Linked DNA regions of Homo sapiens. The protein of the gene in region 3 purifies or fractionates together with the protein of the main gene of each other region. This does not show direct contact. Each region holds a gene or a part of one and is shown on either strand. Other genes may lie near its edges.

Region 1 (7,026 bases), on a different chromosome or scaffold from region 3:
ATTGCACCATTGCACTCCAGCCTAGGCAACAACAGCGAAACTTCGTCTCAAAAAAAAAAAAAAAAAAAAAAAAAAAGAAAAACAAAAAACCCAGAATTATTCAATTCCTTTCCCTGCTGCCATGCAGGTTGCACTAAGGAGCCGAGTGAAGTAGGGATACTGACCAATATCTGTCCAGCTCTGTTGACCCTGTGTTGTCTATGTATTTGTAGAGAACCTAGCTGGTAAGCCAGCCCTGCAAATCCCCAGTTCTCGAGCTGCTGCCCCAAGGCCTCCAGTATCTGCCGCCAGCGGGCGTCCTCAGGATGATACAGACAGCAGCCGGGCCTCACTCCCAGAACTGCCCCGGATGCAGAGACCCTCTTTACCGGACCTCTCTCGGCCTAATACCACCAGCAGTACGGGCATGAAGCACAGCTCCTCTGCCCCTCCCCCACCACCCCCAGGGCGGCGTGCCAACGCACCCCCCACACCTCTGCCTATGCACAGCAGCAAAGCCCCCGCCTACAACAGAGAGAAACCCTTGCCACCGACGCCTGGACAAAGGCTTCACCCTGGTCGAGAGGGACCTCCTGCTCCACCCCCAGTCAAACCACCTCCTTCCCCTGTGAATATCAGAACAGGACCAAGTGGCCAGTCTCTGGCTCCTCCTCCTCCGCCTTACCGCCAGCCTCCTGGGGTCCCCAATGGACCCTCTAGCCCCACTAATGAGTCAGCCCCTGAGCTGCCACAGAGACACAATTCTTTGCATAGGAAGACACCAGGGCCTGTCAGAGGCCTAGCACCTCCTCCACCCACCTCGGCCTCCCCATCTTTACTGAGTAATAGGCCACCTCCCCCAGCCCGAGACCCTCCCAGTCGGGGAGCAGGTAAGTGCTTGGAAGCACCTTTTTCCCTATCATGCTGTGAGTTGATTTTATCTTTCCCCAGAGCACTCCTTGAAGACAGTAATTCGTTTATTCACTCAGTGGGTTTATTGAGTACCTTTTTATGTGTCAGGTCTGTTGGTAGGGAAATAGCAATAAATAGAAAAGACAAAAAAATTTGACAGTCAAACTAGTAAAATATATAAATACATAGTATGCAGTATGCTTTAGAGAATTACAAAGCAGAGGAGAGGAATAAGATATACTGGGGCGGAGGTCGGGATGATGATATCTTTAATTGGAGGAGTGGGGAGAGAGTCAGGACAGTCCTTACTGATACGGTGAAAATTTGACAAAGACCTTAAGAAAGTGACGAGTAAGCTTAGTAGTTATCTAGGAGAACAGCTGTTGCAGGCAGTGGGAACAACAAATGCAGAGGCCATAAGGCAGAAGTATTCTTGAAACATTTTGGGGACAGCAAGGGGGCCATTGTGGCAAGACTACAAAGAGTGAGGGGAGGGAAGAGTGGTAGGACTTGGAGGTTGGAAAGCTGGAGCTGCAGGGGAGAGCGCACTGCAGGATTTTGCAAAGACCTTGGATTTAACTGTGTGAGATGGGAAGCCACTGGAGGGTTTTAAACAGAGAAGTAGTATGATTTGATTCACCTTTTAAAAAGATCATTAACTCCTATGTTGAGAACAGACCGCAGGAGGACAAAGGTGACAAAAGGAGACCAGTTACTGGGCTGTTGCAGTAAACGGCCAGATGGTTAGGACTACTGTGAATTTGTGGGAAGATAGGTGTTCAGTTTGAGACAAGTTTGAGATGCCTGTTAGGTAATCAAGAAGAGACAATGAATTGGTAATTGGCTATCAGACTCCAAAGTTGAGGGGAGAGGTTTCGGCTAGAGAGATACATTTGAATGGTGTTGAAAACCACATGCTGGATGAAGTCACCTAAGGAGTGAATATAGATAAGAAGAGGCCTAGGAGGCTGAGGCAGGAGAATCGCTTGAACTCAGGAGGCAGAGGTTGCAGTGAGCCGAGATCACGCCACTGCACTCCAGCCTGGGCGACAGAGTGACAGTCCATCTCAAAAAAAAAAAAAAAAAAAATGAGGGCTGAGCCCTCGCCCTCCTACATTAGAGGCAAAAGAGATGAAGAATACCCAGCAGAGGAAACAGAAAAGCTTCTAGTGAGGATGGAAGGAGAAAAACCAAGAATGTGATGGAAAAACTCCAAGGTAGAGTAAGTGGTCAGCTGTGCCCAGTGCTGCAGATGGGTCAGGTAAGTTAAAGACCAAGAACTGGCATTGGTCTTAGTATCATGGGACCCTTTTGAGTAGTTTCAGTGGAGTGGTGGAGGGTGAAAGTGAAAGCTTAATTGGAGTGGGTTCAAGAATGCAGGAATAGGAGGAGAGAAATTGGAGATAGCAATATAGAAATCTCTTAAAGAGTTCGCTGTAAAGTCCAGGAGAGAGGGGTGAAGATAAGTGAAGTGATTGTTGGACGAAGATGTGGGGTTGAGAGTTGTTTTTTTCCCATCCCAAGATGGGAGACCTATTTGTATGCTGATGGAATGAGTAGCATGAAACTTAGGAGAGAGGGAAAAAATTGAATCAGAAGAGAGGGAACAGATTGCCTGAATAATGACCTGGAGGAGGCCAGAGAAAAGAGAATGTGATCGATAGATAAAAAGGGTTGGCCTTAGATAGGAACATAGTTCTTCCATAGTAACAAGAGGGGAGGCAGAGCATATAGGCTTAGAAGCAAGTGGGTAGGTGGGTGTAGTGGTAGAAGCATGTGGAAAGTTTATTCTAATTTGCTTCTGTTTTCTCAGTGAAATGGAAAGCAAGAGCATCAGCTGTGATTGAGGCGAGGGAAGGAGAAGGAGAGTTGAGGAGAGAGAAGAGGCATGAAATGGTCATCTGGAGCGTGGGAGTGTGGGTGGACTAGGGAAGTGTGCTCAGATAGGCAACCACGCGAAGGGCCCACTTGAGATTATGGGCCATACATTTCATGTGAGATTAATTAGTCTCATGTGTTCAGTTGTGATTTGCAGGTACAGAAAAAGAGTAGAGCTGTGTTTAACCAGCGTTAGCATGTTTTAGGCATGTGCGACTCTAAGGGAGAGTGGGGCAGGAAGGGAAGGGTGTATGTGAGGGAGTGATTGCAATAATGGAGCCTAAGCTGGGTGAGGAGGGAATTTAGGAACCCTGGAAAAAGAAGAGGTTGTGTAATCTCGTTATAATTAGCATAACTGAAATTTTAGAGTGAGGGAGACCGTGACAGCTCTCTGGGGCCTTATTGGACATGGGAATTTTGGCTCCCATATCGTTGTATCATTAGACTTTGAGACATACCCTCCACAAACAGCTTCTTGGCCTTTATTTATTTATTTGTTTGTTTGTGTTTTGAGACAGAGCCTTGCTCTTTCGCCCAGGCTGGAGTGCAGTGGTGCAATCTCTGCTCATTGCAACCTCTTCCTCCCAGGTTCAAGTGATTGTTGTGTCTCAGCCTCCTGACTAGCTGGAATTACAGGCATGTGCCACCATATCTGGCTAATTTTTGTATTTTTAGTAGAAACGGGTTTTCGCCGTGTTGGCCAGGCTGGTCTCAAACTCCTGACCTCAAGTGAGCCACTGCGCCCAGCCCTTAGCTTTTATTTTAAAGTCAGTTTCTACAGGTATAGAACATTGATTAAGGAGTTATGTCATGGAGTCTGGGCATGATGGCTCACGCCTTAATCCCAGCACTTTGGAAGGTTGAGGCCAGCAGATCATTTAAGCCCAGGAGTTCGAGACCAGCCTGGGCAACATGGCAAAACCCTGTCTCTACAAAAAATAATTTTAAAAAATTAGCCTGGCATGGCGGTGCATGCCTGTAGTCCCAGCTACTTGAGTGGCTGAGGTGGGAAGACCACTTGAGCCTGGGAGGTGGAGGCTGCAGTGAGCTGTATTAGTGCCACTGCACTTCAGCCTGGGCAACACAGCAAGACGTTGTCCCAAAAAAAGGGTAAAGGTTATATCATTAAGTAGCAAGGCATTAAAAGTCCATTAACCTGTGTGCAGCTTCTTTGTTCAGTACATACAGATTTGTACTCTAGCAGCTGGCCATCTAACATAGGGCAGCCAAACAGTGGCCTACTGCATTCCTGATCCCATATCTCCCTAGCTTTAGCCATAATGAGGTAGTGCTAAGGTGGCCCTTGATTCTATAAAGTTCAGGTTTGACTTTTTTTTTAACTTAGGGATTTTACAAAAGACTCTTTGTCTGAGCAAAGCTCATATCTTTCTGACCTCATCCAGGAATAGAAGAAGAGAAAAATGCAATTTCCGTGGGTTGAGCTGAGCACTTTTAAATGTCTGCAGGCTTTCTTGCTTCCCACTTTTCCATTCTTTCTCTGTGGTAGCTAGGACTACAGGAGTGTTGCCACCATGTCTGGCTCATTAAAATTTTTTTTTATTTTTATTTTTTAAGATGAGGTCTGTGTTGCCCAGGCTGGACTCAAACTCTTGGGCTCAAGCCATCCTCCCACCTTGGCCTCCCGAAGCCCTGGGATTACAGATGTGAGCAATTGTACCTGGCTAGAGCAGCAATTCTTAAGAGTGATAAACCAGAAAAAAATTGAGATATTTTAGTCAGAGATCATTTGAGTATTGCCTCGATTTGTTGTGTGACATTGGACAGATCACTGATTCTCTTTTCTCACCGATTCTCTTTTCTCACCTGTAAAATGTACATTTGAAAAGTACAGTGGGGGTCAGGGACACAGGCTCACACTTGTAATCCTAGTGCTTTGGGAGGCTGAGGCAGGAGGATCGCTTGAGACGGAGTTCAAGACCAGCCTGGGCAACATGGTGAAACCCCATTACTACAAAAAATAAAAAAACTAGGCCGGGTGCAGTGGCTCACGCCTGTAATCCTAGCAATTTGGGAGGCTGAGACAGGCAGATCACCTGAGGTCAGGAGTTCAAGACCAGCCTGGCCAACATGGTGAAACCCCATCTCTCTACTAAAATACAAAAATTAGCCAGGCATGATGGCGGGTGCCTGTAATCCCAGCTACTCGAGAGGCTGAGACGGGAGAATCGCTTGAACCCGGGAGATTGTGGTTGCAGTGAGCTAAGATTGCACCACTGCACTCCAGCATGGGTGACTGAGCGAGACTCTGTCTCAAAAAATAAATAAATAAATAAATAAAAATAAATTTAAGAAACCTAGCCAGGCGTGGTAGCGTGTGCCTGTGGTCCCAGCTACTTGGGAGGCTAGGATGGGAGGATCACTTGAGCCCAGGAGGCAGAGGCTGCAGAGAGCTGAGATCACGCCACTGCACTCCAGCCTAGGCAGCAGAGCAAGACCCTGCCTCAAAACCCGCCCCCCCAAAACCCAAAAACTAGCATTATTGGTTCATAGAGTTTGTTTCAAGAATTTTTTCTTTGCAGAGTAAAACACTGTCTTTTTTTTTTTTTTTTTTTTTTGAGATGGAGTCTTGCTCTGTCGCCCAGGCTGGAGTGCAGTGGCGCGATCTCGGCTCACTGCAAGCTCCACCTCCCAGGTTCACGCCATTCTCCTGCCTCAGCCTCCCGAGTAGCTGGGACTGCAGGCACCCGCTACCATACCCGACTAATTTTTTTGTATCTTTAGTAGAGATGGGGTTTCACCATGTTAGCCAGGATGGTCTCTATCTCCTGACCTTGTGATCCGCCTGCCTTGGCCTCCCAAAGTGCTGGGATTATAGGCATGAGCCACTGCACCCGCCAACACTGTCCATTTTTAAGGGAATTTGAGAAAAATAGAAACCATCATACTTTTCTCAAAATTAGGGTTAATCTTGGATTACAAAAGCCTGTCTCCCATCCCAGGACTTCTTTTGGAAATTGTTTTTTAGGGACTGGAGTTCTGGCTCTGTCACTTGAAACAGTCTTAAAACTGGATCTGGGGCCGGGTGCGGTGGCTCATGCCTGTAATCCCAGCACTTTGGGAGGCTGAGGCGGGCAGATCATGAGGTCAGGAGATTGAGACCATCCTGGCTAACACGGTGAAACCCTGTCTCTCTACTAAAAATACAAAAATGAGCCGGGCGTGGTGGCGGGTGCCTGTAGTCCCAGCTACTGGGGAGGCTGAGGCAGGAGAGTGGCATGAACCCGGGAGGCGGAGCTTGCAGTAAGCCGAGATCGTGCCACTGTACTCAAGCCTGGGGGACAGAGCGAGACTCCGTCTCAAAAAAAAAAAAAAAAAAGAAAAATAACTGGATCTGACAAAGAGCCCAGAAGCTTATTGGAGACAGCAGAACCTGGCTGGGATGAGGGAGGGAGCTGGAGAAGCCAAACAGATCACTCTTACCCTGCTCTATTTTGCCATTCCAGGTCGTCTCATCGCTGTCACCTGCCTGGTGTCTAGCTGGTGTCGGTGTCCTTGTGAACCTGGCTAACCCTGTTTACCTTGCTGCCCTGGCCTAGGAGTAGATACAAATTCTCAGGGCCTTGAGGAATCTGGGTTTTAGGGAATATTTTTGAGGGCTTAAAGAAGCTTCTATTCTTAAAGAGCTTTAGTTTGAGTAGATTTGGAATCAAAACAAGGCTCAGAGATCTGCTGGGAGTTACAAGATTTCTCTTTAATTATTGCATCTAGTGTCCCCTGTTTCTACTGAACAAAGCTTGGAAACAGTGAGGAAGAGTTGACATTCTGAGTGTGTCTTACGGGAAGCAAAAACATTTATTGGGCTTATTGTGCCAGATTGTGTGTGTGTGTGTGTGTATGTTATTCTATTACTGTGTTACATGCTTAACTATAGTCACTACAGCAATTCTGATAGTAATCAGGAGGAATAATAAGATACTCTTTTCTTTGAGACAGTCTTGCTGTGTCACCAGGCTGGAGTGCAGTGGCGCGATGTTGGCTTATTGCAGCCTCCATCTCCCAGGTTCAAGCTCCTCCCACCTCAGGCTCCAGAATATCTGGGATTGCAGGCGTGTGCCACCACGCTTGGCTAATTTTTGTACTTTTTTAAAATTTGAGGTGAGGTTTCATCATGTTGCCCAGGCTGATCTCGAACTCCTGGCATCAAGCAATCTGCCTGCCTCAGCCTCCCAGAGTGTTGGGATTACAGATGTGAGCCACTATGCCTAGCCAAGATACCGTTTTACTACTAAAAACAGT
Region 2 (6,837 bases), on a different chromosome or scaffold from region 3:
AAAAAAAAGAACTATCATGCTAGCAAACCCATAACTAGAGGACTGTCTGACAGCAAGCTCTGTAAAGCGTTTAGGAAAAGGCTCCTGAGGTCCAAAGGAACCATCTTCACTCAAGAACAGCATCATATCCTTGAGTCATCTAGAATTACAAGGGAGATTCTGGAACAGGTGTATAGAAAGTCAACCAAAAGGACAAGACTTGAGTCTGACCTGTCCATGGAAGATGTTCATTAAAAAAAAATTGTTGGATACAGTTTTCTGCCGTCTGCATAATAAGAAAATATAAACTGATCCTGAGTGCATGCTTTATGAAGAGCTAGACATTGTGCTTAGTGTTTTATTTATACTTTCTCACATAATCCTCCAACAATCCTAATTCATCAGTGTTGTTATCCTTGAATTATACATAAAGAAACCAAAGCTCAGAGAGGTGAAATGACTCCTGGATGGTAGATTTAAGATTTCAAACCATGGTGCAATACCTTTATTTTTTATTTTATTTTTTTGAGACAGAGTTTTACCGTTGTCACCCAGGCTGTAGTGCAATGGTGCGATCTCGGCTCACTGCACCCTCCGCCTCCCAGGTTCAAGCAATTCTCCTGCCTCAGCCTCCCTAGTAGCTGGGATTACAGGCGCCTGCCACTACCCTCAGCTAATTTTTTTTTTTTTTTTGTATTTTTAGTAGAGACAGGGTTTCACCAAGTTGGCCAGGCTGGTCTCAAACTCCTGACCTCAGATGATCCACCTGCCTCGGCCTCCCAAAGTGCTGGGATTACAGGGATTACAGCCACCATGCCCGGCTGATGCAATACCTTTAAAGGAAAAGCAGGTCTATCTGACTTTGTGATATCTAAGCAAAATGCCACTTCAACAGCATCACTTAGGATACAGGGCCTTGAGCAGCAGATAGCCTACTGCATGCTTAGGCTTCCCTAATTCTCTATATCTATTATTTATTTTAGAAATCATTTATATGTAGGCTGGGCGTGGTGGCTCATGCCTGTAATCCCAGCACTTTGGGAGGCCGACGAAGGTGGATCACCTGAGGTCGGGAGTTCAAGACTAGCCTGACCAACATGGAGAAACCCCATCTCTAATAAAAATACAAAAAAAAAATTAGCCAGGCGTGCTGGCACATGCCTGTAATCCCAGCTACTCGTGAGGCTGAGGCAGGAGAATCGCCTGAACCCGGGAGGCGGAGGTTGCGGTGAGCCAAGATGGCGCCATTGCACTCCAGCCTGGGCAACAAGAGCGAAACTCCGTCTGGAAAAAAAAAATCATTTACATGTATTCATAGGAGAGCTCAGACAGACTTTAACCTGTTTTCAGAGCGGTATAGTGAAGAGATAATGAAGTCTGGAATCAGCTGGTTAGGGTCTACCTTTTAATCGGCTTTGTTACCTTGAACATCAGATTTCTGATTTTTTATTTTCAAATGAGAAACTTCTTCCTGGCTTCCTTCCACAGGGTTTGTGAGGGTCCAGTAAGGTAATAGCTATAAAAGCATCTTTATAGGTTATAAAATTCTCTACTGGGGTAAATAACTGTTAGTAATGGTTTCTTCCCAGTTAATGCTAATACTGGTAGTAATCTGACTCTTCAGCCACTTTTTTTTTTTTTTTTTTTGAGACAGGGTCTCACTCTGTCACCCAGGCTTGAGTGCAAGAGTGCAATCACTGCTCACTACAGCCTTGACCTCCCTCGGCTCAGGTGATCCTCCCACTTCAGCCTCCCAAGTAGCTGGGATTACAGGCACATGCCACCATGCCTAATTTTTCTATTTTTTGCAGAGACAGGGTTTCACTGTGTTGGCCAGGCTGGTCTCGAACTCCTGGCCCCAAGCAATACGCCCGCCTTAGGCTCCCAAAGTGCTGGGATTAACAGATGTGAGCCACACACCCAGCCACTGAGCCACATTTTTTCTTTTTAATAAAAAGCATTTACTGGCCGGGCACAGTGGCTCACACCTGTAATCCCAACACTTTGGGAGGCTGAGGCAGGTAGATCATCTGAGGTCAGGAGTTTGAGACCAGCCTGACCAACATGGTGAAACCCCATCTCTGGTAAAAAAAAAAAAAAATTAGCTGTGTGTGGTGGTGTGCGCCTGTAGTCCCAGCTACCTGAGAAGCTGAGGCAGAATTGCTTGAACCCGGGAGGCAGAGGTTGCAGTGAGCCGAGATCGAGCCACTGCACTCCAGCCAGAGCAACAGAACAAGACTGTCTCAAAAAAAAGAGCATTTACTGCATGCCAGATTGTAAGTATTCCCTGAAATGAGAATAAAGTTGTTCATATTCCACTACCTTAGCAAAGCAGATAGTGACTTTTTTTGTAGATCCTTCTTGTCCTCAAACATACATTTTTCCATAGTTGCAATTAAAGAAAAATGTGGGCCAGGCAGGGTGGCTCATGTCTGTAATCCCAGCACTTTGGGAGGCCGAGGTGGGCAGATCACTTGAGGTCAGGAGTTGGAGACCAGCCTGACCAACATGCTGAAACCCCGTCTCTACTAAAAAATACAAAAAATAGCCAGGTGTGGTAGCGGGCACCTGTAATCCCAGCTACTTGGGAGGCTGAGGCAGGAGAATCACTTGAACCCGGGAGGCAGAGGTCACAGTGAGCCAAGATCGTGCCATTGCACTCCAGTCTGGGCATTAACAGAGAAACTCTGTCTTAAAAAAAAAAAGTAAGAAAAGGAAGGAAGGAAGGGAGGGAGGGAGGGTATTTTGTTTTTCCCCTCAATTTATTGTATGTGTTTTCATGTTGCTTGTGTTCATAATTAGCATTTAAATGACTGCATAATAGGCCGGGCATGGTGGCTCATGCGTATAATCCCAGCACTTTGGGAGGCCGAGGTGGGTAGATCACCTGTCAGTTCGAGACCAGCCTGGCCAACATGGTGAAACCCCGTGTCTACAAAAAATACACAAATTAGCCAGGCGTGGTGACGTGAGCCTGTAGTCCCAACTACACCAGAGGCTGAGGCTGGAGGATAGCTTGAGCCCAGGAGTTCAAGCCCAGGAGTTCGAGGCTGCAGTGAGCCATGATCATGCCATTGCATTCCAGCCTGGGCGACAGTAAGACCTTGTCTCAGGCTGGGCGAGGTGGCTCACACCTGTAATCCCAGCACTTTGGGAGGCCGAGGCGGGCGGATTGCCTGAAGTCAGGAGTTCGAGACCAGTCTGGCCAACATGGTGAAACACCATCTCAACTAAAAATACAAAAAAATTAGCCGGGCGTGGTGGTGTGCGCCTGTAATTCCAGCTACTCGGGAGGTTGAGGCAGGAGAATAGCTTGAACCTGGGAGGCGGAGGTTGCAGTGAGCCGAGATCACACCACTGCACTCCAGCCTGGGCGACAGAGCAAGACTCCGTCTCAAAAAAACAAAAAACAAGAAAAAACCTTGTCTCAAAAAACAACACAAAAACACAAATTTCCTTCTGAAAGGGACTGTTCCAGTTTGCAGTGTGCCCAGCTATTTATGACCATATTATTTTTTAGACTCCGTCTAAAAAAAAAAAAGACTTGTATTTAATGTGATTTAATCGACTGTGCCCATCTCACTGCGGACACTGAGTGCGCAACCTGAGCCTGGAGCAGTTGAGGGAGACGGCAAGACCCCACGCGCCGTGTAACGACCATAACGCGCGTGCACTACAACCTCGCCGCCGGCGTCCAGGCTTCTGTGTTCTATAGCGTGGGAGTAGAGAGCAAACGCCGGCGAGGACGTGACGTTGCACAGGCCTATCATAGTGCCCGAGAATTCGTGGGTGCTCAAGAGGATGGGTGTGGCCTGGCAGCGCAGGCGCACTAGAGGCCTGTAGGGTCGGGGCGCCTGCGCAGTCGCTCTTCCTCAGGCGGCGGCCATGGCGGGACAGGAGGATCCGGTGCAGCGGGAGATTCACCAGGACTGGGCTAACCGGGAGTACATTGAGATAATCACCAGCAGCATCAAGAAAATCGCAGACTTTCTCAACTCGTTCGGTCAGCGGGCCAGCAAGGGGAGGCGGGGAGGAGGGAGGCCGCTGAGGTGGTTGGGCTGGGGCGCCGGGGAGATGCTTTGAGAGGACTCCCGCAGCCTTCGGCTGTTGCGGGTTTTCACTTCCTCCTTCAGGTCCCACCTTCTCCCTCCCGCCCTGACCCTCAGGCTCCCGTAGACAGTCTCTGTAGGGTTATCCTGCCCTACGCTGAGCTCATGGCTTCCTGCCATCCCTCTGGATCCATTCTACAAGTCCTTCTCCTAGACGCGTCAGGCAGCCCCATCCTCGCTCCGTGGTTCTTCTCCTAAGTGGTCTCCCTGCCTCCTTTGTACTCTGCATCCATTCCGGTCCCCACTTTGCACTCAAAGTGAGCATCCGGGACCGTGTCACTCCTCTGTTTCAAGACTGTTGACCGTTCCCCATCTTCAGGATCTGGTCGATACCCTCTAGCGTCGTGCCTTTTAGTTGGACCCGTTGTCAACCACTCCCGTCTTGTCCATTCCTTCCTGTTTCCTGTGTCTGCTGCGGTGAGAGTGGTGGGAGATGAGGTCAGAGGGATGCCAGGATCTTGTAGGACCTTGGAAGTCCTCTCTGTATTGCTAGTATATATAGCTTATGGTAGGTGTTCTGTCTGCTTCTAGCCCATTCCTCAGAGCTAACACAGGTCGGGTGCCTTCAGCAGAAAGATATCTTTACCAGAATCTTTCCTAGGCATGGCCTGCTTGTGACAGCCTTAAATTCTTCCTTATGAACAGCAAGCAAAGCAATCGAGATTCCTACCCCTTCTTCTCCAAGTGTTTAACAGAACTTGGCACTGGTTAGACTTTCTTGTGTAATTACAGGATATAGGGACTAGTGTACTTTGGAAAGATTTTTAAATGAATGATTCTCTAACTAAAGGACTGATGGCCTTAGGAGTACAAAGGTGACAGAGCAAGAGATTGTCAGAAAGCATCAGCGAGAGATGCTAGAGCTCCATATGAGGCCCTCTCTTAAGGCATAGTGGGAGACACAGAATAAGAACCACTTCCTACATTCAAAGAAGTTCTAATCTTGAAGATGAAATAATGACAACTTCAGGACAAAGAAGAGCATCATTTTTGTATTAAAGTATTTTCATACAGGGTGTTTAGGACTATAATCGTGGCTGAGTTCAATGGCTTATGTCTGTAATCCCAGCACTTTGGGAGGCCAAGGTGGGAGGATTGCTTGAGCCCAGGAGTTCAAGACCAGCCTGAGCAACATGACCAGATCCTATCTCTACAAAACAACGACAACAAAAAAATTAGTTGGGCATGGTCATGCACACCTGTTGTCCCAGCTACTCGGGAGGCTGAGACAGGAGGATCACTTGAGCCCTGAAGGCAGTGAGCCATGTTCATGCCACTGCACTCCAGCCTAGGCGACTGACTGAAAATTGAAAAGCCTAAGCTTAGGATTTGCAAAGGAGAAATGTCCCTTTTCTTGCTTTATAGGCAAGGAGATATCAGCTTGGATATTTTTATGTCTAATTTGTAAGAGTCACATTTTATGATCAGATAGAGAGTAAAGACTTTATTTGGGCTTTTCAACAAATTCTTTTTTTTTTTTTTTTTTTTGAGACAGGGTCTCACTCTAGCCCAGGCTGGAGTGCAGTGGCGTGATCTCAGCTCACTGCAACCTCTTCCTCCTGGATTCAAATGATTCTCATGCCCCCGCCTCCTGAGTAGCTAGGATTACAGGTGTGCACCACCACACCTGGCTGATTTTTGTGCTTTTAAAAATAGAGGCAGGTTTTGGCCATCTTGCCCAGGCTGGTCTCAAACTCCTGAGCTCAAGTGATCCACCCGCTTCGGCCTCCCAAAGTGCTGGGATTACAGGCCTGAGCCACTGTGCCCTGCCCCCAAAAATTCTAAACTAAGGAATTAGACATACAGAAGTCCAGTCTTTTGGAGCCAAAAGAAATGACTTCCCTTAGCTTAGATCATTATCCTCCCTTAAAGTGATGATAATGGCCAAATGTTTGGAGTAATTACTAGGTGGTTTTTAAAGATTTTAGAAAGTGAATTTAGAGAAAATAACAATTAAATACAACTAAGTAAGAAGAGAATTATAATGCAGGATTAACAGTCAAAGGAATTTGACTTAGCAGTTAGGTGTACCTGAGGCAAGTTCTTAAAGATTGGCATGGTGGCTCATGCCTGTAATCCCAGCACTTGGGGAGGCTGAGGCGAGCAGATCACCTGAGGTCGAGTTTGAGATCAGCCTGGCTAACATGGTGAAACCCTGTCTCTACTAAAAATACAAAATTAGCTGGGCATGGTGTTGCACACCTGTAATCCCAGCTACTCAGGAGGCTGAGGCAGGAGAATTGCTTGAACCGGGGAGGCAGAGGTTGCAGTGAGCAGGGATCGTGCCACTGCACTGCAGCTTGGGCAAAAGACGAGACTCTGTCTCCAAAAAAAAAAAAAAAAAAGATTGACACTATCACAATGCAAGAGTTTAGAAAAAGACCCCACCGGCTGCGAAACTGGATAAATTAAATTATAAGGATAGACTTGAGTATGTTGTCTTGGTATTGAATGAGTCAGGATGACTATGTATGGGATGTTTTTTTCCCATCCTAAGCCATTAGTAGGCTTGTACAATTGTCCCTTGAACAATACATGTTTGAAGTGCATGGATCCATTTACAGGTAGATTTTTTTTTTTGAGACAGATTTTCATTCTGTCACCTAGGCTGAAGTGCAGTGGCATGATCTCGGCTCACTGCAACCTCCATCTCCCAGGTTCAAGTGATTTTCTTGGCTTAGCTTCCTGAGTAGCTGGGACTACAGGTGTGTGCCACCATGCCCGGCTAATATTTGTATTTTTAGTAGAG
Region 3 (7,155 bases):
AGACATATTTTCTTTGGTACTGTTCATATTTAGTTTTATATTATAGTTATTTGTATGCTGGTTTCATCCTTCCTTTTGGGTCTTTCCTCTCCATTTCTCCTAAACTATTTTCCCATCCTTTCACTCCACTCCAGTTTGCGTTATAACCTCTCTGAATAATGCAATCTTATATCTGCTCTTTGCACATCCAGGTGTTCTTTGGTGTCTGCACCAAATGAATGAATCCTGAAGTGGATCTTATAATGCCTTACAAATAGAACTACACCAGATATGCTTAATTGAATTGAGGGTTACAAGAGAAGGTCATGAGAAAGGAGACATGAGTGTTTACCATGTGCTGAACACACAGTTGAGACATGTTTATATTATCTCCTTTAATTCTCACAACGCTTTGCAAGAGCACTATTAATATCTGAGGCTCAGAGAGGTGAAATGACCCCAAGGCACAGGCTCCAAGGTAGGCTTTGAGCCTCTGACGTATGACTTGGACAACACCCTCAACCTTGCTTTGTGTTTTCCGTGAGTCTAAGGAGGGGTTAGAGAAGGCCTTGAATGGAGCTCTGAAAGAGAAGGACGGGGACAGGGAATTCCTAGCTGCCTTCACACCACAGAAGGCTGAAACTAGTGTGACTCAATGTGGCACTGTGGGCAGAGCTGAGTGACTGAAGCAAACAGCTTATACTGGACAGAGGTAAAAAGGAGATTGTATGGCAGGGCTAAGTTGGAGAGGCCTTTGGAAGAGAGATCATAAGATGTAATGCTGATGTGATTTTAGGCAAAAGTTTACTGCACCTCCTTCCACTCCATGTTTTTTATGCTTTCAATACTTTGTGATTGAAGACAGTAAAACAGATGTGGACACATTAATGGAGTAGAATGCAGAAAAACCTATATATTTTTAGATAAAACATAAGCTTCAAAGAAATGTCTCCCCCATGTTAAGCCTTGCAGTGGGTTGGATGTTGGCCCCAAAAGATATGTTCACCTGGAAGCCGAGAACGCGACCTTATTTGGAAAAAAGGTCTTTGCAGATGTTGTAAGATAAGGATGTCGAGATGACATCATGCTGGATTAGAGTGAGCCCTAAATTCAATGATACTTGTCTTTACAAAAAGAGAGAAGGGAAAGGACACAGGGAACCAGGTTGTGTGAAGACAGAGAGGCAGAGGTGGGAGTGACACTGCCACAAGCCAAGGAATGTCTGCAGCCACCAGAAGCTGGAAGAGGCAGGGAAGGATTGTTCTCTACAGACTTTGGAGAGAGGCTGGTGTCTTGATATCAGACTTCTGAACTCCAGAACTTTGAGAAAATAACCTCTGTTTTGTCACCTAGTTTGGGGTCATTTGTTAAGGCAGCCCCAGGAAACGAACACAGGCCTCTAAGGGCTAAATACCCCAGCCTCTCTGGGGGAAAATGCTCAGTCTTCAGTCATCAGATAACTTTTGAGGAGACTGTGGTGGGCAATGGGGAGCCATGAGAAGTTCTTGAGCACAACCAGGGACAAATGGAAACAATTTACAGGAAGGTTAGGATGACATTGATGTCCAGTGTGAGTCTGAGGGATTTAAGAAGGAAGTAATGGGAGACCAGTTGGAAGGCAGTAGTTGTGGGGAATTGAACAAGAGTTTTGGAGTCAGGTACATGCTCTGACCCCAGTTCTTTGATCCACTGTTCAAGTGATTTCATCTGTAAAATGGGTATAATACTATTGTGTGTGGATTAGAGATGATATATGTCAAGAATTCAATCAAGGTACATTATAACTATTGCTAGAATGATGTATAAGTTAGGATGCCAGTGATGGAAATGGAAAGAAAGGTGCAGTGGAAAAGATGTTTAAGAATCACCAGGACTCAGAACCATGGGGGTAGTCTGCAAGGGGTCTTGGTGTCATTCAGCGCTCTCCCAGCTTTTCTTGGGGAGAACTCGGAGAGAGGGAAGGAAAAGCCAAGATAACAATGAGATTTCTCCCAGGAGCTGAGGTGCCTGGTAGACTCTTGGCCAGGCCTGAAACCATGGGAGGAGGAGCTGGTCTGGGGAGCAGATGAGTTTCATTTTGAACATGGTGACCTAGAAGAGATGCTGCGCCATGTTTAGGGGGTGCAGATTAGCTGGGGAGCTCTGCAGATTAGCAGGGGAGCTCTCTAAGGCTACAGGTCTGGGGGTTAATCAATGAAGGTTTAGACAGGGAGTGTACAAAAAACAATCAACTCTCTCTTTAAAAAAAAAAGGTGCGTATCAGAATAAAAACAAAGGGCCACCATCTGCCTTGGGGATATCACTTTTACAGGGTGGGAAGACAACAACCTCTCTAGAGGAGGCAGATGGGCAGGTCAGAAAGGTAAGAGAATCAGAACTGGCTGTGTTTGATGAATGAAAAGATGATGGTGTTTCAGGAAATAGCAGAAATGCCACATATTTCAGAAAACTCCACAGGATAAAGATTGATAAAGGGCCACTGGATTTAGATAGAGAATGACATCGGTGACTTCTAAAGAATCAGAGAAAGAAGAGGCATGCAAGAACCACGATTCAGTGAAAGTTTACAAAGCAAACAAGCTACAAACTGGGTCAATATTGCTATACTTATTTTGAGTAAATTAATCTAAAATTGGGCAGACTGATGACTAGAATTCTTCTTTTCTTATTGTAAAGCTAGATATTAGTAACACAAAACTTGCACAAAAGGATGAACTGAAGTAGCTTCTTTCACAAGGTCAAAACAAGGAAAAATGAGGCTGTTCTGATTCCCTGAGCTTGTACCTGATTCCTGCTCAGTGTACTGTGCTTCCTTCCACTTACTGAGCTATTGAGGGCTACCTACTGCCAGGGTACTTCACATAGGAGGTAAGTAAATATTATCTCCCCATATGACAGATTTTAGAAAGGCTGAGGACCACCTGTGCAACGTTACACAGTTCAGGAAGTCAACAGTCAAACACTCACCTGTCTGACTTCAAAGCTACGCTGACTCTAGTTACCTATCCTTGGGTACTTCCCTTCTGGAAGGAAGCAGGAGATGAGTGAATCAAATAATACAGCCTTGTAACCTTGGGTAAATTATTATTGCCTTAATAGTAAGCAGAGACCAGGAGCCTAAGAAAGAATCTCATTAACATGGATGCAGGCTATCCTGCCAGGAAATCAGAATCATTTGAATATTAGGATTTCCTTTGGGAAACCATATGGGGAGGAGAAAAGACATCCGGATGCATGTGTCTGTGAAAGGGAAACTTGTGTCTTTCCCCTTGCTCTTGGGTTTTCATCTTCCAAGTTTGTTTATAGGCTAGCCACAACTCGAGGCTGGGTGAGCTGAACGGTCCCATCATTAGCGACACTCCTTCTAGGGGCACATTCGGGCAGCTCCTCTTCGGGTTCTGCCCCCACGGGTGTGCAACCAGGATTCCACAGGCTGGGGCTGGCCTGGATGCCTGGGAGGCAACAGAGGTCGAGTTTCTTCTTCTTTTAGGAAGTGCCTCGGACAGGGATGATGGACTAAAAATGTGTCTGGTTGGGAAAGTAAATAGATGCAAAGCAAATAAATAAAAATGCCCACAAGCAATTACAGGGAGGAAGTGACATTTTTATTTAAGTCACTTTTCTGATGGACAACAGGCCTGCTTAGCTGAGTGCCGTGGGAATGCTTCCGGGAGGGGGGCGGCTGCCCAGCAACTAGAGCTTCGTGATAAGAACAACGAACAAACAAAAAAGAGGACGCAAAGCCCACCCGGCAGTCATCCCAGGCTGGAAGTTGCCGTCTGTGTTTTCACTCTCCTCCCCACCCACCTACCCTGCCCCCCACCGCCCGCACGCAATTTCGGGCGTGGGGACCCTTTCCTGCCCCCGGCGCCCGGCCCGTGCTGCGCCTCCAGAGCGGAGCGTCCCGCAGCCCCGCGCTATCCCGGCGCCCGTACCGGGACCCGGGCGCGGAGCCTGGCGACGACGGGGGGCGCCCCAGGTGGGTCTCGGGTCCCCGCCCCGCGCGCCCGGGCCTGGGCCGGCCCCTGGGCGGCGTCACGGCGCGGCCGGGGAGGAGCGCGGGAGGAGGAGGAAGAGCGCGGAGGAGGCGGGCGCTGCGCGCCGGGGGAGGGTCGCCGCCGCCGCCGCCGCCGCCGCCGCCGCTGCCGCGGGGATCGTCAGGCCGGAGCCGCGCGGCCGAGCGGGCGGCGGGCGGAGGGGAGGGCTTGGCGGCCGGGAGGCTCGCGGCGCCCGGGCCGGCAGGGTCCGCCCGGGCCGGCAGCGTCCGCCCGGCGGCGGGAGGAGGGAGCGGCGCAGACAAAGAGCGGCGCCTGGGCGGGCGCAGCGCGGCCACCGCCCCGGGACCCGCGCCGCTGCCCTCCGGCTCCGCGGGCGGCCCACGGCGAGGTAAGCGCGGCTAGGCGGGCGTGGGGCGGGGGCCACAAACTTGGGGCCGTTGGGCGGAGTTGGGAGCGCGGCGGGGCTCGCGGGCCGGGGTGCGCCCGGGAAGGGGCCAGGAGAGCGGGTCCCCTCCGCGCCCCTCCGGTGCTCTCGGCCCTGCCGCGGCCTGGGCGCCCCCGACCGCGGACTGCCGGGCACCTCCCGGCTCTGCACCTTCCTGCCCGCCTTCCCATCCCTAACCCCCACCATCGGGGGCCGGCCCAGGGGCGGGGACGCCAGCCAAGGGCGCGGGCGAGGATCAGGGCAGGGGGCCCGGCTGCGGGGCCCGGGGACTGGAGACCCCCGGGTGCGCAGGCTGCGCCTGGCCTGCAGGCGGGCGGCCGGCACGGAGCTCGGGGCTAGCGTGGGACCGTGCGGTGGCCAGGGTCGCCAGGGCGCGTGTGCCGGGGAAGAATAGCCGCGGATCGCAGGGCCCCGGCGCAGGGACGGGGGAGGCCGCGATCGGCCGGGAGAACTTAACCGTGTTTATTACAACTATTTATGTTCGCGCACAAAGCTGCTGTCACATTGCATAAAGGAGGTCCTCGCTTCGGCGAAGGGAGCTTTTGTGCCCGGCTTCAGGCTCTGCGCCCTGCCCCAGATTTACAGGACTCTAACAGCCACCTGAATGAACCAAAGTTTCTCACAATCGCTCGGCTCTCTCGGTTTTTTTCAGGGCGATTTAATCACCGAGTGCTTTTGGAAAAATTTGATATGTGAGTTTTAAGGCATGGAGGGTAACTGCCTTATGAGCACAGTTAGCTTGGCATTGTGTGGAGGGGTTTAATTTGCAAAACGCTTTAATTTGTAGACAATGGGGATCTCTGTGAAGGTCTGCGGTGGATGCTAGGGGTCATTGGCTGGTGGACCCCAGGCACCTGACTTAAACTAGTATTGTAACAGCTTCAGGGACAAAGCCGAGCGTGCGTGGAGTCGGCCTTGGCCACTTCACACAATTCAGGTTGGCAGATTCCTCTTTATTTGGCTTTGTTTATTTTGCCAACAGGTTTAAGGCTGCTTCTGCCAAGTTTGCATCTGCATAATGGGATGAGCAGGCCCCAGTGTGGGCAGGAGGGGGCCTAAAATATCGCAAGGGCCAGCTCCGTCCCTCGACCCAGAAAGAAACAACCCTGAGAGGCCGGTGGGCGTGGCTTGCTGGGACCTACAGGTAGGGGAGTCCCTTCCTGGCCCAGGCGCAGTCCCCGCTTCTCGGAAGGGATTTTGTGTAGGAATGAAAGTGATTCAGGGTGTTTTTCATGCCTCTGTTTTAGATGTAGTTATCAAGTCTCAAAAGTGACTGAAAATGAAATTAACCTGGGCCGCTTTAACTTACCAAAACGGAACTGTGCGTGTGAACACTCCCTCAATTCACTTTGCAAGCTTCATAGATAAGCAGGTGAATTAGTAACAGGATTCAAGCCTTGCGAGTTTTACGTAAAGAGAATGGCAGTCATCGGACACGTGGAGAAGAAATTGACTTCACCTGGAGATTGGGCTAGACATGGAGGTTTTTTGACGTTTGGAACAGGGGTTTCCTGAGAAGCAAGTGTTAACCTGCTTGTGAAGAAGTGAACACGAGGGAAAATCCTACCTCAGTATATTCTGCCCTGGAGGTTGGTTAGATGTAGTTTTGATTGGAGAAGGTGGCGGAATCTTAGTGGTCTTCTGGCGGCTACTTGAGGCTGAAATGGAGAACTTTAGGCATAGGAAGCTGTGGAGGTGCCTGGCCCACTTCCTGTCCCGGAGGCCTCGCCTGGATTCTGAGCTTCTTTCCTGCTTCATAAACATTCAGGGGGGTTGGTCATGAAACACTGGATGAAATTGGGTCACAAATTGCCATCAGGAAGAGTTGGCTGCTGCATAACCCCCTCTGTCCACTTGTGGAGAAACTGACCCTGTTAACCGTCGGGCTTGCTGAAGGTGCCTTGCAGGTGGCTGTGCTCAGTTTTCATGCTTTGTGTTTTGCTTAGGACACGCTGCATACTTAAATCTTCTTCATCCTTGCTCTGTTTGACCCTGCCATATTCCCAGGCTTTGTCATTTACATTTTCGGTTATTTAGCTTTTCCAACAAACAGCAGATCTTATGTACACAGTACTATATTTGAGAAATGCACTACCATCCATATTAAATACACCGGAAATCTTCCTTGCATGTGCACAGACTGGATAACCTTTTAAAATACCCTAAGACTCCCGGAATGGCGCAGAATGCACTGGAGTCCTTTACTTGATCAGTTGCACTAGCTTAGTTTGCCCTGGATAGACCAGGCTGCGAGGCTCTATGGGACACCCATTTTTCTAACTGCTCAAACTGGCTTGCCGTGTGCACTGGGGGAGACAGGGCTTGCGGAAATCATTCTCTGACATTAAAAATGAGGCTTAAAGACTGAAGAGCTCAGAATTGCTTGCTGGAACTACAGGGGAGGATGATGAGTGATGTTTGGAAAAACAAGTAAGCTAACTTTTTTCACAAATGAACTGGAAACTCCCTACAGCTCACTTCAGATGCTTAGGAAATTAGTTTTCCCATCCAGAGGGTTTGCGAGTGGCACTTCCAAATGGTTTCTGTTTCCTAAAATGAGTGATGGAAATACTTCACGGCACGTTTTCAAAGGGCCTAAGCTAAAATGTGATTTCGTGTATCTTGTTCCATGCCTGAGTTAAGGCAACTCAGAAGAAGGTCGTGACGGCCTTTTAACGGGCTATCAAAAGTGTGCAGCTAAAGCAAAAACAGTTTTGCATTTCTTTAGGCCAT

What was found. Proteins that work in one complex are often made in the same cells at the same time.
Region 1: the proteins of NCK2 (region 3) and WIPF2 purify together in Homo sapiens (affinity purification with mass spectrometry; 5 studies listed by BioGRID and IntAct, with this or other methods). This does not show direct contact.
Region 2: the proteins of NCK2 (region 3) and BRK1 purify together in Homo sapiens (affinity purification with mass spectrometry; 4 studies listed by BioGRID and IntAct, with this or other methods). This does not show direct contact.

Annotation. Positions count from the first base shown.
Region 1 is NC_000017.11:40,264,278-40,271,303, forward strand, and holds part of WIPF2 (WAS/WASL-interacting protein family member 2), read left to right. Parts: intron 1-212; coding exon 213-869; intron 870-7,026. UniProt on the Homo sapiens protein: Plays an active role in the formation of cell surface protrusions downstream of activated PDGFB receptors. Plays an important role in actin-microspike formation through cooperation with WASL.
Region 2 is NC_000003.12:10,111,838-10,118,674, forward strand, and holds the start of BRK1 (protein BRICK1), read left to right. Parts: upstream 1-3,837; 5' UTR 3,838-3,864; coding exon 3,865-3,982; intron 3,983-6,837. UniProt on the Homo sapiens protein: Involved in regulation of actin and microtubule organization. Part of a WAVE complex that activates the Arp2/3 complex. As component of the WAVE1 complex, required for BDNF-NTRK2 endocytic trafficking and signaling from early endosomes.
Region 3 is NC_000002.12:105,740,774-105,747,928, forward strand, and holds the start of NCK2 (cytoplasmic protein NCK2), read left to right. Parts: upstream 1-4,138; 5' UTR 4,139-4,365; intron 4,366-4,832; exon of another isoform or gene 4,833-5,566; intron 5,567-7,155. UniProt on the Homo sapiens protein: Adapter protein which associates with tyrosine-phosphorylated growth factor receptors or their cellular substrates. Maintains low levels of EIF2S1 phosphorylation by promoting its dephosphorylation by PP1.